2 separate regions of the Homo sapiens genome follow, and region 1 is linked to region 2. Evidence: fine-mapped expression QTL. Tissue or cell type: whole blood. Region 2 holds a variant in brackets; the other region holds the start of a gene. All regions are shown on one strand. Distances are between the middles of the regions.

Region 1 (8,087 bases), 29 kb before region 2:
TCCTGAGCTCAGGCAATCTGCCTGCCTTGGCTTCCCAAAGTGTTAGGATTACAGGCATGAGCCACCGTGCCCGGCCTTTTTTTTTTTTTTTTTTTTTTGAGATGGAGTCTTGCTCTGTTGCCCAGGCTGGAGTGCAGTGGCGTGTTCTTGGCTCACTGCAACCTCTGTCTCCTGGGTTCAAGCAATTCTCCTGCCTCAGGCTCCCGAGTAGCTAGGACTACAGGTGTGCACCACAATGCCCAGCTAATTGTGTGTGTGTGGTGTGTGTGTGTGTGTGTGTGTGTGTTTTAGTAGGGACGGGGTTTCACCATGCTGGCCAGGCTGGTCTCAAACTCCTTACCTCAGGTAATCTGCCCGCCTCGGCCTCCCAGAATGCCGGGATTACAGGCATGAGCCACAGCACCCGGCTAATTTCTTTCTTTCTTTCCCTTCTTTCCCTCCCTCCCTCCCTTCCTTTCTTTCCTTCTTTCTTTTTTTTTTTTTTTTTTGAGATGGAGTTTCGCTCTTGTTGCCCAGGCTGGAGTGCAGTGGTGTGATCTCGGATCACTGCAACCTCTGTCTCCCAGGTTCAAACGATTCTCCTGCCTCAGCCTCCCAAGTAGCTAGGATTACAGGGATGTGCCACCATGCCTGGCTAATTTTGTATTTTTAGTAAAGACAGGGTTACTCCATGTTGGTCAGGCTGGTCTCGAACTCCCGACCTCAGGTGATCTGCCCACCTCAGCCTCCCAAAGTGCTGGGATTACAGGAGTGAGCCACTACACCCGGCCTCTTTCTTTTTTGTTTTGAGACAGAGTTTCGCTCTTGTTGCCCAGGCTGGAGTGCAGTGGGTGATCTCAGCTCACTGCAACCTCTGCCTCCCAGTTCCAAGTGATTCTCCAGTGTCTCGAGTAACTGGGATTACAGGTGCCCACCACCATGCCTGGCTAATTTTTTTGTGTTTTTAATAGAGATGGGGGGGTTTCATCATGTTGGCCCAGGTGGTCTCGAACTCCTGACTTCCTGATCTGCCCACCTCAGCTTCCCACAGTGCTGGGATTACAGGCGTGAATCACTGAGCCCCGACTGATCTTGGTTTCTAAATCCTACTCTTGAAGCAAAGGAACCAGGTTCCTTGGAGAAATGGCTGATTCCAGGGATTTTACACAGCATTGGATCATGTTGTGGAGCCCAAGATAAATAATGCTCAGAGAATGGTGGCGACATATTAAAAGGACACAGGAGCTTATTTATTATTTATTTATTTATTTATTGAGACGGAGTCTTGCTCTGTCGCCCAGGCTGGAGTGCAGTGGCTCGATCTCTGCTCACTGCAAGCTTCGCCTCCCGGGTTTGCACCATTCTCCTGCCTCAGCCTCCCGAGTAGCTAGGACCACAGGCACCTGCCACCACGCCTGGCTAATTTTTTGTATTTTTAGTAGAGATAGGGTTTCACCATGTTAGCCAGGATGGTCTCAATCTCCTGACCTCATGATCCGCCCGCCTCGGCCTCCCAAAGTGCTGGGATTACAGGCGTGAGCCACTGCACCCAGCCAGGAGCTAATTTAAAGGGGCAGGAAAGGAAATAATTATAATTATAATGATGTGGATTTATTAATCCACATCAGTTTATAGCGATTTTTGTTGTTGTTGTTGTTGTTGCTTTTTGAGACAAAGTCTCATTCTGTCACCCAGGCTGGAGTGCAGTGGCACAATCTCGGCTCACTGCAATCTCCGCCTCCCAGGTTCAAGAGATTCTCATGCCTCATCCTCCTGAGTAGCTATGATTATAGCACCTGCCACCACGCCAGGCTAATTTTTTTTTTTTTTTTTTGGATTTTTAGTAGAGACGGGGTTTCACCATGTTGGCCAGTCTGGTCTCAAACTCCCGACCTCAGGTGATCCACACGCCTGGCATCCCAAAGTGCTGGGGTTACAGGCGTGAGCCACTGCGCCGGGCCTGTTTGTTTTTTGAGACTGGGTCTCACTCTGTTGCCCAGGCTGGAGTGGGGTCTTCGTTCACTGCAACTTCTGCCTCCTGGCCTCAAACGATACTCCTACCTCAGCCTCTTGAGAAACTGGGACCACAGGCTCGGGCCACAGGCCCGTTTTTTTTTTTTTTTCCAATTGTAGCTGTGAGGCATTTTATTACAAAAACTTGGTACTCGTATACACAAACTAACATGAACTTAAAATACATTTTCTTCATTTTTTAGCTTGACCTTCTTTTTTTTTTTTGAGACGTGGTCTTGCTCTATCGCCCAAGCTGGAGTGCAGTGGTGCGATCTTGGCTTACTGCAGCCTCTGCCTCCTGGGTTCAAGCGATTCTCCTGCCTCAGCCTCCTGAGTAGCTGGGATTACAGGCTCCCGCCACCACTCCCGACTAATTTTTTTTATTTTTAGTAGAGACAAGGTTTCACCATGTTGGTCAGGCTGGTCTCGAACTCCTGATCTCGTGATCCGCCCGCCTCGGCCTCCCAAAGTGCTCGGATTACAATGACAGGATGTGAGCCACCGCGCCCAGCCTGTAAACCCTTTTGAAAAAATTCCCCAGCGCATTACTCCAAAACAACGTGGAAGTGTAAATGGAAACCAGGGCTGGGCGCGGTGGCTCATGCCTGTAATCCCAGCACTTTGGGAGGCCGAGGCGGGCAGATCACCTGAGGTCGGGAGATCGGGACCCGCCTGACCAACATGGAGAAACCCTGTCTCTACTAAAAACACAAAACTTGCCGGGCATGGTGGCACATGCCTGTAATTCCAGCTACTCCGGAAGGCTGAGGCAGATGAATCGCTTGAACCTGGGAAGCGGAGGTTGCGGTGAGCCGAGATCACGCCATTGTACTCCAGCCTGGGCAACAAGAGCGAAACTCTGTCTCAAAAAAAAAAAAAAAAAAAAAAAAAGGAAACTTGGACCAAAAAAATCAGCAAAAGTGGAGCAGGGATGTCTGAACACAGATGAGTCTAATTCCCTGCTTGGAAAGCAGGACACCTGAGTGTGGTTTGGCCTCTGACCACTGTAGCATTTACGACCTTGGGGAGGGTTACCACTCTGGGACCTCAGTCACACTATCTACAAAATGGGACACTTCTCTCAGCCTTCCTTCTTCCGGGCCGCTTTCAAGCCTGGGCTTCTGGAAATACGCAGGCGCGAGATGAATTGTTTGATTGGCTATTCATTGTGATGCACCCACGAGCTGAAGCTCCGTCTAAGCCCCGCCCTTTCCTGTCGTGACTTAACGCACGCAAGCGGCTCCAGGGTACGTCCCCGCCACGCGCGCTCGCAGGATCGGTGCGTGGTGACGTTTCGCCGGCGCGGGCGCCATCCCGGAAGCGCGAGCAAGGCCGCCAGATGTGCAGGTGCCGCCGCTACCGACGCCGGGGCCGAGTTTGGGGTGGGGCTGGGGACTCCAGGGCCGCGGGGAACCGGTCCGGGTCGGGCGCGGCCCCCGGGCTGCGGTGGGGTGGGGTGCGCCACTGGCCACATCTGGTCATTCCTGCTGCGCACAGGCCTCAGTTTCCCCGTCTGCTCAATGGATACGCAGGCGGCGCTACGGGCTGGATCTGGATCCGGATCAGGGGCATAGGAATTGGGGCCTCCTGTGTTCTGGGTGTGTCGTGTAACCTGGAGCTGGGCGTTGCCCGGTTTGTGCCTCAGTTTCCCTGTATTGTAGGGGACGGGGCGTGAGGGGATATTTGAGCCCCTCCCCACTTGGGGTTTTTCAGAGCTTGGATGGCTGAGTTAAATTCTGTTAAATAACCTGGATATAGAACCGTGGTGCTTCTCTGCCTCTCCCTGTGAGTTTCGGCAACGGAGCCCGCCCCTGTGAGCCTCAGTTTCACTCGGAGATGATTGTGTCTGCCTCGTAACGGTGATTGAGGATGAAATGAAGTGCTCTACAAGTGTTTGCCCGTAATATATTCTTAGAGGCCCCTGGGATGCTCTCAAAATGTTGATTCCCGGGACTTCTTCACACTCCTCTTGGAGAAACAGCCTGTCCTGAGCTCCAGTCGTTATCACCTTTGGTTTCAGTTGCCACAGACAGCACTGTGAGATCTTCATTCTACCTTATTTTCATTTTATGGTTGAAAAAACTGATTCAGAAGGGTGAAGTGGCTCTCCCATGGTCAAACAGCCTACCTCTCTGCGTTTCTTCAATAAATCTACATTTGGAGTTGGGATCAGAGCTCTTGCTGGGTCAATTTCACTGTGTATGTGGGCCAGACTAGCAGTAATCAGGGAAGGCTTCTTGGGAGAGGAAGTTGCGGGGGGACGGGAGGGAGGTGCCAGGAACCCCTCAGCCCTCACATCTGGGAGCCAGAGACAGAAAAGAGTCCTGTTTTGAAGGAGGAGTGTATCCCAGAAGGTCCCAGTACTGTGTCTCACTGGTACTAGCTATGGGCCTCCCTCTCCAGGTGTCTTTTTTTTTTTTTTTTTTTTTTTTTCAGTTGAGATGAAGTCTCCCTCTGTAGCCCACACTAGAATGCAGTGGCTTGATTTTGGCTCATTGCAACCTCTGCCTCCCGGGTTCAAGCGATTCTCCTGCCTCAGCCTCCTGAGTAGCTGGGACTACAGGTGCCCGCCATCATGCCTGGCTAATTTTTGTATTTTTAGTAGAGACGGGGGTTTCACCATGTTCACCAGGCTAGTCTTGAACTCATGACCTCAGGTGATCCACCAGCCTTGGCTTCCCAAAGTGCTGAGATTACAGGCATGAGCACCCGGTCCAGGTATCCTCTTTATACAAGATCATGCTTCTTTGGGAATGTGGAGACTGGGTGTCTCTGCATGGCATGTCATAGGAGTTCAATAACCATAGTTATTATTAGAGGGAAGGGGGTTTTGCTGGGTGTGGCACCTTATTTCTAGAAGGTGCTGCAAACCACTGACCAGATACAGATCACAAATAGATGCTCTTGGCCTCCATGATATCTTGGAAAAAAGTATTGATTGCTGACATTTGTCAATGAGGCAATTTCCCAGAAAAAAAAAATCCCTGTTTCCTTTTTCCTGGAGAAACATCAGAAGTCAGGCAGAAATCAGCTGCTGTAAGAAGCCACTGTCCTGTCACAGCTGGATATTGTGCACCTGTTCAGATTCACACCTTTGTGAGACCCGTGGGCTGTGGCCGTTTGTTGTGACTTAGGTTCACTGGCTGTGTGACAGTGGCCCAGTTTCTCAGTGTCCCTGAGCCTCAGTTTTCTCATCTATAAATAAGAATGATAACAGTATGTATGAGCTTGATGCTTTGTTTAGCATAGAGTAGCTGCTGAATAAATGGGAGAGTACATTAAGTGAGCTCTGAAACCCTTTCTTTCTCTTTCCTTTCTTTCTCTCTTTCTCTGTCTCTCTCTCTTTCTCTCCTCTCTCTTTCTCTCTTTGTCTCTCTCTCTTTCTCTCCTTCTCTCTCTCTTTCTCTCTCTCCCTTCCTTCCTTCCCTCCCTCCCTCCCTTCCTTCCTTCTTTTCGAGATGGAGTCTCACTCTGTCGCCCGGGCTGGAGTGTAGTGGCATGATCTCGGCTCATTGCAACCTCTGCCTCCCAGGTTCAAGCCATTCTCCTGCCTCAGCCATCCAAGTAGCTGCGACTACAGGTGCCCGCCACCATGCCCGGCTAATTTTTTTTGTATTTTTAGTAGAGACTGAGTTTCACTATGTTGGCCAGGCTGGTTTTGAACTCCTGACCTCAAGCAGTCTGCCCACCTCGGCCTCCCAAAGTGCTAGGATTACAGACGTGAGCCACCACACCCGGCCTCTGAAACCCTTTCTGATCCAGTAGAAGTTCGTCTCTGTTTCTTGGCTATTAAATGTGTGGGCCTCAGAGCCAAACTATATCAAGATCCTAGATTTTTCCTGAACTCCCTAGGAGGGTCAGTGCTGTAGCCCCTCCTACCCTGGCTGCTCCGGGAAGTCCCTGCCTGCCATTACGGTCATCTGTGTGCCAGCAAAACTGGGAACCTCAGAACCATCTGGATTGCTGGGGCCCACAGGTTGGCTGTGAGTACCTGCAATTCTTGGCTTTAATTTGCTAATAAAAGTGTCACGTCAGAGCTGAGTTTGAAAAGTTCTGTTGCCCTTCCCCACAACAACATTCTGGCAGCCCCTTGCTATGAGCCAGACTCCGGGTCGGGTTCTGGTGACAGACACACCTCTACTCCTTCTTTTTTTTTTTTGAGACGGAGTCTCTCTGTTGCCCAGGCTGGAGTGCAGTGGCACAGTCTTGGCTCACCACAACCTCCGCCTCCTGGGTTCAAGTGATTCTCCTGCCTCAAGCTCCCGAGTAGCTGGGACTAAAGGTGCCCACCACCATGCCTGGCTAATTTTTGTATTTTTAGTAGAGATGGGGTTTCACTATGTTGGCCAGGCTGGTCTCGAACTCCTGACCTCGTGATCCACCTGCCTCGCCCTCCCAGAGTGCTAGGATTACAGGCGTGAGCCACAGCACCTGGCCACCTCTGCTCTTTTGGAGCTGACGTTGTGGCGGTGACAGGCAAACGGGTTAGCTGATAACTAGGATAATTTCATGAAGAGGTGAACCAGTGAAGCAGTTAAATCAAGGTAAAGGGTGGCTGGGCGCAGTGGCTCAGGCCTGTAATCCTAGCACTTTGGGAGGCCAAGGCAAAAGGGTCGTGTCAGCCTAGGAATTTAAGAGCAGCCTAGGCAACATAGCGAGACCCTGTCTCTTAACAAACAAACAAACAAAAACAAGGTAAAGTAGCCTGGGCGCGGTGGCTCATGCCTGTAATCCCAGCACTTTGGGAGGCTGAGGCGAGTGGATCACCTGAGGTCAGTAGTTCGAGACCAGCCTGGCCAAAATGGTGAAACCCCGTCTCTACTAAAAAATACAAAAATTAGCCAGGCGTGGTGGCGGGCACCTGTAATCCCAGCTACTTGGGAGGGTGAGGCAGGAGAATCGCTTGAACCTGGGAGGCGGAGGTTGCGCTAAGCCAAGATCGCGCCATTGCACTCCAGCCTGGGTGACAGGAGTGAAACTCTGTATCAAAAAGAAATAAAAAAACGAGGTCAAGTAGTAAGAGAAGCGGTAAGAGTGACGGGAACAGGAGTCATTGACCTCTTGGGAGAGGAGACATTGGAGGTGGTGATGATTTGCTGAAGCAGCCACACACGTTCAGCTTGTGAGGACAGCAGTTGTTAGGCAGGGGATGAGGGAGGAAGCTGGCAGATCTGTGCAGGTGAGAGGTACCTGTGGCCTTGGGCTCATGGAAGTGGGAGGTGATGGGATTCTAATGTGCTTGGGTACAGTTTACAAATACAACCTCTCTTAGTTTGCCCAATACCTCCAAATTCCTGGGGTGGCACACCTGAGGTTCAGGTGGCATGACTGAGCCACAGTCACACATCCCCACTGTAGGATACCACCACGGTTGGGTTAGGTTCCAGCACATGGCGGTCCCGGCCTGGCCTCTTGGTCCCACCTCACCTGGTGACTAGTGCAGACCACTCTGTTCTTGCCTGTTTCAGGCAGCGGAGGAGGAGAAAGAGATGGACCTCCCGGACTCGGCCTCGAGGGTCTTCTGCGGCCGCATCCTGAGCATGGTGAACACAGATGATGTCAACGCCATCATCCTGGCCCAGAAGAACATGTGAGTGGCGGCTGGGGGACCTGAGCGTGGGAAGGAATCCACAGGCTGGCCAACATTCTTGTCTTGCCCGCCCCTACCCGGGGCCCACACTGGTGATAAAATGAAGGAAATGAGCAAATCTGTCGCTGGCTCCAAAGTAAATTCCTTCCCGGCCTGGAGGCGAGGCCTTGGCACAGGAAGCAGGGCTTTGGGGAGATTTTGCAGCTGCGGATGGCTTGGCGGGGGCCGCAGGGGCTCCTGTCCCGAGACCTGGGGTGGGAGAGTTGAAGGACCAGAGGGGGCCACATGCAGGTTTTTTTGTTTATTTGTTTCTTGTTTTTGAGACAGAGTTTTGCTCTTGTTGCCCAGGCTAGAGTGCAATGGTGTGACCTTGCCTCACTGCAACCTCCGCCTCCCGAGTTCAAGCGATTTCTCCTGCCTCAGCCCTCTGAGTAGCTGGGATTACAAGCATGTGCCACCATGCCCAGCTAATTTTTGTATTTTTAGTAGAGACGGGCTTTCATCA
Region 2 (8,099 bases):
ATGGAGCATGCAGTGAGCCGAGATTGCACCACTGCACTCCAGCCTGTGCGACAGAGCGAGACTCCCTCAAAAAAAAAAAAAAAAAATCACCTTCATTGCGCCCAGGGACCACAATCCTCAGGGAAAGTCGAGAAGATTAATGAAACACTCAAAAGGCACTCAAGGAAATTAACACAAGAAACTCACCTCCCATGGAAACTCACCCTCTTGCCCATAGCATTATTAAGGATCCTAAATTCTCCCCACAAGATAGGACTCAGTCCTTATGAAATGCTATATGGACAGCCTTTTCTCACAAACAACCTCTTACTTGATTGAGAAACTGCCAACTTGGTCAAGGACATAACTTCTTTGGCTAGGTACCAGCAAATCCTAAAGACATTACCCGAGGGATGCCACCGAGAAAAGGGAAAAGCATCGTTCCATCCCAGGGATCTAGTATTAGTCAAGTCCCTCCCCTCTACCTCCCCATCCCTAGATCCATCGTGGGAAGGACCATATTTGGTTATCCTCTCCACTCCAACTGCAGTCAAGGTGATTGGAGTGGAGTCTTGGATCCATCACACCTGAATCAAACCTTGGATACAGCCTGAAAAACCCGCAGAATCATTAGCTTGGGAATCTAAGAGTCAGCCAGACAAACCTTCTTACACCCACGAGCCATTGGAAGACTTATGTATCCTCTTTCAGAAGGAAAATTAATCAGTGCTCATAAGTTCTACCTCAGTTCTTGTTTTAAAAACAGAATGTACTCTAACATCCTAACATTCCTTGCCTTTGCCCAAGTCTTAACCTTTCCCCGCTCAATGTCTTCCCCTAATCTTGAGGGAATTATTATTATTATTATTATTTTTTTTTTTTTTTTTTGAGACAGAGTCTCGCTCTGTCGCCCAGGCTGGAGTGCAGTGACGTGATCTCGGCTCACTGCAAGCTCTGCCTTCCGGGTTCACACCATTCTCCTCCCTCAGCCTCCCAAGTAGCTGGGACTACAGGCGCCCACCACCACACCTGGCTAATTTTTTGTATTTTTAGTAGAGACGGGGTTTCACCGTGGTCTCGATCTGCTGACCTCGTGATCTGCCCTCCTCAGCCTCCCAAAGTGCTGGGATTACAGGCGTGAGCCACCGTGCCCGGCCTACCTTGAGGGAATTATAAACATGTCCTCCAGGTTTTTATTTGAAGCACTTCCCAATCAGAGTAACTCATCCTGTTGGGTTTGCATGAACCCTAATTTCCCCCTTATATACAGCAGTTCCGGCCCCCCTCAACATATGGGTGGAAAGCTCTGAGGCCTCATACATAGCTAACACTTCTAAGGGTCCAGGATTTTTTCATCCTAGTGATAGGTCCAATTTCCCTGACAGGGCTCAAGCAGCCTTAAAAGCAGCCGCCGCCATTCTCCGACAATTCGCTCTATCAGCTATCCCAATCATAGGTTCTGTGGGCACAATAACCTCCTTCTCTTCGCCTCCACTCCTTTGTATCTCCCATCAAGTGTTCCCATGATCACAAGGTGTGGGACACGTGGCTGGCTGCAACTATAGCTTGCCTTGGATATAGAGTTCAAATATTCTAATTCTTACAGTACGACTACTGGCACCCCAATGTTTTGTGGAAATAAACATGAGTTCCTTGGAAACCCTATTTCAGTCACCTATCCCTTAAGATTTACCACCCCAAGCCAAATAATTCCCCCACCAGAGGCCAAAACAACAAGCAATTACTGCTGGGGCAGACTTCCTTTTGCCCAGGATATCCCCCTCCTGGGACTTGGTTCCTCTCTCACAGGCAAAGGGTTAAAAAAACCCCATTGCTTCCTGCTTCCTGTCTGGGGTGCGCGAGTTTTTCTTTTTGTTGTTGTTGTTTTGTTTTGTTTTTGAGATGGAGTCTCGCTCTGTCGCCCAGGCTGGAGTGCAGTGGCGCGATCTCCCTCACTGCAAGCTCCGCCTCCCAGGTTTGCACCATTCTCCTGCCTCAGCCTCCCGAGTAGCTGGGACTACAGGCGCCCACCACCACACCCAGCTAATTTTTTGTATTTTTAGTAGAGATGGAGTTTCACCATGTTAGCCAGGATGGTCTTGATCTCCTGACCTCGTGATCCACCAGCCTTGGCCTCCGAAAGTGCTGGGATTACAGGCGTGAGCCACTGCACCCAGCCGAGAGTTTTTCTTAATGCAGCTAGCCACCGGTTTGCCTTACAGGAACCCCATAATACGTCCTTGGCAAATTCTATTCAGCTCCAACTGCTAGGAGTGGCCCATTTGTCCTGAACCCTCAAATCATGGGAATGAGAAATGAATTTAGACTGACCACAGCCCTTATGAGTTTTCAGCTACAGGGGTGTATAGAACCCTGATAAGGAGTTTTCTTTGTGTGTGGAAGATCCTTCTATATTTGCCTCCCCACCAACTGGACAGGAACTTGTACTTTAGCCTACATAGTACCTCCTGTGACTTATTCCTTTTCAGAAGAGGCAGTAGCTGTGCCCATTCATGCTAAGCTTCAGCCGAGAGCAATCTCACTACTTCCTCTATTGGCTGGTTTAGGATTTACTACCACCTAGGAAGTGGACTCACAGCCTAGATGAAATCTCTCTCCAACTTACTCAAATCCAGGACCAAATAGACTCATTAGCAGCTGTGGTTCTCCAGAACCAGTGAGCACTAGATCTCCAATCTCCTCACTGCCGAAAGGGGAGGAACATGCCTTTTTCTGAACAAGGAATGTTGTTTTTATGTCAATAAATCAGGCATAGTGAGAGATGGAATTAAATGACTTCAGGATAGAGCTAGCAGACTACATGGTGGGACAACCGAAACTACCTCAGGGTTCTCACAGCCTGTTCTCCACTGGCTTCTTCCATTTTTAGGTCCCTTCCTTATGATTATTCTAGGAGTAACCTTTGGCCCATGTCTTTTCAGTTCCTTCATCCTTTCGTTTCTTCCTGAATAGAATCAATGAAACTAGAAATGTTACTGCAGATGGAACCTCAGATGACTTCAACCAGCACCTATTATCAAGGACCCCTAAACCAGCCTGCCGGCCCATACCCGGACGTTGACACCCAAACCACCTCTCACGAGGAAACCTCAGCTACAGAACCCCTTCTATGCCCCTATTCAGCAGGAAGCAATTAGAGTGGTCATCCTCCCACACCCCAACAGCAGTTGGGCTCTCCTGTTGAGAGAGGGGACTGAGGGGTGGAGTTGGCAGGATTTACTGGGCAGGTTTGGGGACTTTCACAGAAGACCCCTGTGACTCAGTGTTTTGAGTTCTTAACCAATCGAGTGAAGGATTCAGAATTAACCACTCCAGGCCGGGCGCGGTGGCTCACGCCTGTAATCCCAGCACTTTGGGAGGCCGAGGCGGGCGGATCACGAGGTCAGGAGATTGAGACCATCCTGGCTAACCCGGTGAAACCCTGCCTCTACTAAAAATACAAAAAATTGGCCGGGTGTGGTGGCGGGCGCCTGTGGTCCCAGCTACTGGGGAGGCTGAGGCAGGAGAATGGCGTGAACCCGGGAGGCAGAGCTTGAAGTGAGCCGAGATCGTGCCATTGCACTGCAGCCTGGGCGACAGAGCGAGACTCTGTCTCACTAAAAAAAAAAAAAAAAAAAAACAAAAAAAAAAAACACTCCAGAGGAGGATTGAAAAAAGAACCACTCTCAATGGACAAAAAGAAAGGGGAGGGGTAACATAGGGATATGAGCCCTAGCCACCGGAGCCAGCAACGGCAACCCTTCCGGGTCCCCTTCCAGCATGTGGAAGCTTTCCTTTCGCTTTGTTCAATAAACTGCCCTGCTGCTCACTCTCCTGGTCC[G/C]TGGACTCTTTTTGATCTGTAACACACACCGCGAAGGTCCACAGCTTCATTCTTCAAAGTTAGCGAGACCACGAACCCATCGGCAAGAAAAACTCCCAACTCACTAACAGCCTAGTCCCTTCCCCCTTAAAGGCTGGTGTCTGTCACCCCATACCTGAGCTGGTCCCTCTTCACTAAGTCAGGCTACCAGCATCTTCCTGCTCCTCCGGCTGGGCCCCTGGAGGAGGAAGCTTTCCAAAGCTCTGTCTAGCCCATGTATCCCTCCAGCAGGAAGCTCCAAGGCCTCCTCTGTACTTTGAGGTCGTTCTGGCCCCTGCTATGCTCCAGGCTCAGGGCTATTACACAAGACACCCAATTCAACTCGGTGGGCTGTTGACACCGTCCCTGTCACTGAATCTTGTCTTCACCCCTGTGATTCTCTGAAGAGCCAGTGAATCTCTGTTAATGTTGGTGGAGTTCCAGCCACTGCACTTTTTTTGAGGCAGACTCACTGTGGCTCCGGCTGGAGTGCAGTGGCATGGTCATAGCTCATGGCAGCCCCCAACTCCCGGGCTCATGTAATCCTCCCACCTCAGCCTCCCGAGTAGCTGGGACTGGAGGCGGGAGCCACCATGTCGGGCTAATTGGTTTTTCTGTAGAGATCGGGCCTCCCTAGGTTGCCCAGGCTTACTTAACACTCTTGAACGTCAAAACCCACGCTCAGTACCCGCTTCAAGTGGAAGTCGGTGTTGAGATACAAGCATAGGAACGAACTCAAGGCTAACAGCTGTTCTGTATTCAGAGCCGCACAATCAAGGAAAAACACGATCGGAGGCGGGCCCTGGACGGGAACAAGAAGGGTGGGCTTGACTGGGCGGCCCGCGGTCTTGGTTCCCCTTTCTTCCTTCTGGCTGGCCGGCCGCAGGGTAGGGGGTCCGTGGACCTCCCGGCCTGTAGGGGGCGTCGGGCGCAGCGGAAGGGCCTGCTCCGGAGCCTGGCCAGGGCTGCGCAGTCATGATCACCGAGACCGCGGCGGAGCCTACGGTCCCTGCAGTGCCTGCTGCTGAGGAGGCCACCGAAGCTCGGGGACGCGAGGAGCCGGCGTGGCCCTGGGTGAGCCCAGGCCCAAGCGGGAACGGGCGCGGGGCGGGCGGCGCAGACCCAGGGGCGCGGGCTTCATGCCCCAGCCGTGCCCCCTGTCCCGCAGAAAGACGCCCCGATCCGGACGCTGGTGCAGCGCATCCACCAGCTGCAGGCTGAGCGCGCGCAGGGCTTCCGCCGACTGGAGGAGTGAGTGGGGGCGCGGAGGGGCTCAGGGTTCGGTCCCCCGCCCGCTCCGGGCGTGGGCGTGTTCTCGGCGGGCGTGCCTGGAGGAGGAGCTGGGTCCTTGTGTGGCTGCAGAGTCAGATGGGGCGGGGATTTCGGGGCACCGGGTCCTCACCTTCACGAAAAAGGCCCCACAGCACGTCCCCACTACCCGACGACTCACTCTTCGTGGCTTCTCTCTCCTCCCCAAGAGCAGGGGTGGGCCTGTCTCGCGTTCCCCTGCGGGAGTCAGGAAGCGTCCTTCCTACCTACCAGTCCTCCCCTCTGGTGTCTGGGGACACTTCCTGGGGGCCTTTCAGGTGGTTGGCGCCGGTGCAGGGCCTGAGAGCCTGGGGGCGCGGCCTCAGGGTCCCCACATGCCGCAGAGGCCACCGCCAGTACCTGCGCAGCGGCCCTGACTACGACTTCGCGCGCTACCGGAGCACAGTGCACGGGGTGACCCAGGCCTTCGCCGCCGCCTCGCGGGAGGTGCTGGCGGTGGAAGCAGAGCTGGGCGGGCCTCGCAGGCAGCCGCTGCTCGCCGGCCACGTGCGCAGCCTGCAGGAGCTGGAGCAGACGCGGCTGGGCACGGTGAGGCCACCACCCCTTCCCCGCCGTGTCTCTAGGACCCTGGCCGGCTCCTCTCATGACGCACCCCTGGTTGGGGGGTGGTCCCAGTATCCCATACACAGACCTCACCCCTTCCTGTCCCACCCCAATCCTCTATTAAGGCTTCACTTGGGGATTCTCGGACCTTGCCCTCTGCTGTTCATCCCCAATTTTTTTCCCAAGTTTTGTCCTTATTCCCAGAGCACTCCCGCTTTCTCCCAGCTCCGCCTAAATGCTATTCCAAGATGCCCAGATCCCGCCCCAACAATGCTCCACCCACTCTGGTTGTTCCGCGTCTAGGGTCCCACCCTCAACCTCCCGTAGATACAGGCGAGGGGGGTCCCAGGCCACGCCTCCTCCGTATTATTCCTCCATCACAGCTTTAGTTCTTTGCCTATTTCTCTCTTGCGATCCGCCTGCTCGGCCCTGCAACCGTGTGTGACTGGAATTCCTAGGCCACGCCCCCCATGAGCGACCCGTCTCAGCGTCTCTTTGGCCTTTTTCTTTCTGGTGTTTTTTTTTTTTTTTTTTTTTTTTAAGACAGGCTCTTGCTCTCTTGCTCTCTCACCCAGGCTAGAGTGCAATGGCGCGATCTCGGCTAACGGCAACCTCCGCCTCCCAGATTCAAGCGATTCTCCTGCCTCAGCCTCCTGAGTAGCTGGGATTACAGGCATAATTTTTGTATTTTGTATTTTTTTTAGTAGAGACGGGGTTGTGCCATATGGGCAAGGCTGGTCTCGAACTCCTGGTCTCAAGCGATCCGCCCTCTTCTGCTTCCCGAAGTGCTGGGATTTCAGGCGTGAGCCACCGCGTCCAGGCTTTTTGGCCTACTTTTATCCTGGGTCCCCGTCCCTGGGACCATGAGGCGCAACCTAACCCACCCCTACGGCCAATGCCTGGCTAAGACGTCACTGTTGTTCCCAGGCCACGCCCACATCGCGCTCAGCACTGCCTCTGGCCTGCCTGCTGTCTCCTTTCTGAGAGAGCCTCTAAACTGAATTTCGGACTCTTCCTACACAAAGCACTGCCCCTCGTGGTTCTACCCGGGCACTGCCTTTCTGGGTGCCTCTGTTTTTTCCTGAACATCCTTGGAGGGCAGGGGGTGGGTTCTGCTCGTGGAGACATCCTTCGTGTTGCTCATTCCCCCACCAGGTGGCCCTGCTGCAGTTGATGGAGACGCCAGAGCTGGCGGGGCAGGAGGACGCTGTACGGATGCAGCAGCTGAAAATGAAGTGAGCGCTGCTGCCCAAGCCGCCTGGCTATGCTCGATTTGCACCAGGGTTGGCACGGTCAGGACGCTGCCAGCAGAGGAACCCTCTGCCAGTGCACAATGGTGTTCTCACCTGGTGGCCCTCAGATGTACACTTCCCCAGAGGGCACAGCCGTGAAACTTCACATCAGTTTCGCTGTGCATTGCTGGGACACTGCTGTATACCTCGACACATGCCAATCCTGCACACGTGGCTGTCCGTGGAGCTTGGACATGCCCCACTGAGCACAGACCTTCAGATGCCTGTCCTCAGCCCCCAAGCACACACACTCATGTACACACACATTTGACAAAGTCACACTTCATAACCTCCTAATGGTACACACCCCACCAAGATGGCCTTTTCTTTTCTTTTTTTTCTGAGATGCAGTCTCACTCTGTCACCAGGCTGGAGTGCAGTGGCGCGATCTCAGCTCACTGCAACCTCCGCCTCCCGGGTTCAAGTGATTCCCCTGCCTCAGCCTCCTGAGTAGCTGGGACTACAGGCGCGTGCCACCACGCCCAGCTAATTTTTTGTATTTTAGTAGAGATGGGTTTCACCATGTTGGCCAGGATGGTCTCGATCTCCTGACCTCGTGATCTGCCCACCTCAGCCTCCCAAAGTGCTGGGATTACAGGCGTAAGCCAGCACGCCTGGTCCTTTATTTTCTTTTCTTTTTTCTTTCTTTTTTTTGAGATAGAGTCTTGCTCTGTCACCCAGGCTGGAGTGCAGTGGTGCGGTCTTGGCTTACCGTAACCTCTGCCTCCTAAGTAGCTTGGATTACAGATGCCCGCCACCATGCCTGGCTAATTCTTGTATTTTTAGTAGAGACGGGGATTCGCCATGTTGGCCAGGCTTGTTTTGAACTCCTGACCTCAGGTGATCTGCCTGCCTCAGCTTCCCAAAGTGCTGGATTACAGGCGTGAGCCACCATGCCCAGCCCAGATGGCCTTTTCTCTCAGCCCACTGTGACCTATGGGGCCACCCCTTCTCCCTAGCACCTAAGTGTTCCCTCTTGCTGCTAGTGCTGCCTGGAGGTTTGGCGGCGGGCAGGAGGGCCTGGGGCTCACCACAGCCACAGCCCTCTTGCAGCTTCGCGGCAGCAGCTAATTCACCCCATCTGGGTTTTATTTATA

What was found. PIP is the estimated chance that this variant, and not a neighbour inherited with it, causes the effect.
Region 1: KXD1 starts here. The variant in region 2 is fine-mapped to the expression of KXD1 in whole blood (TOPMed, PIP 0.99).

Annotation. Positions count from the first base shown.
Region 1 is chr19:18,554,576-18,562,662 of GRCh38, forward strand. KXD1 (KxDL motif containing 1) reads left to right here and starts at 3,295. Exons shown (of 5, transcript NM_024069.4): 1 at 3,295-3,339; 2 at 7,461-7,582. The coding sequence starts at 7,482. RefSeq lists enhancers at 2,322-3,113, 3,114-3,903, 7,528-8,087 and a silencer at 3,394-3,553.
Region 2 is chr19:18,583,989-18,592,087 of GRCh38, forward strand. It overlaps REX1BD (required for excision 1-B domain containing), which reads left to right and starts at 4,810. Exons shown (of 5, transcript NM_001100418.2): 1 at 4,810-4,912; 2 at 5,007-5,089; 3 at 5,425-5,695; 4 at 6,866-6,945. The coding sequence starts at 4,814. RefSeq lists a silencer at 4,638-5,157 and an enhancer at 7,661-8,099. The variant G/C (reference allele first, on the strand shown) is at 3,821.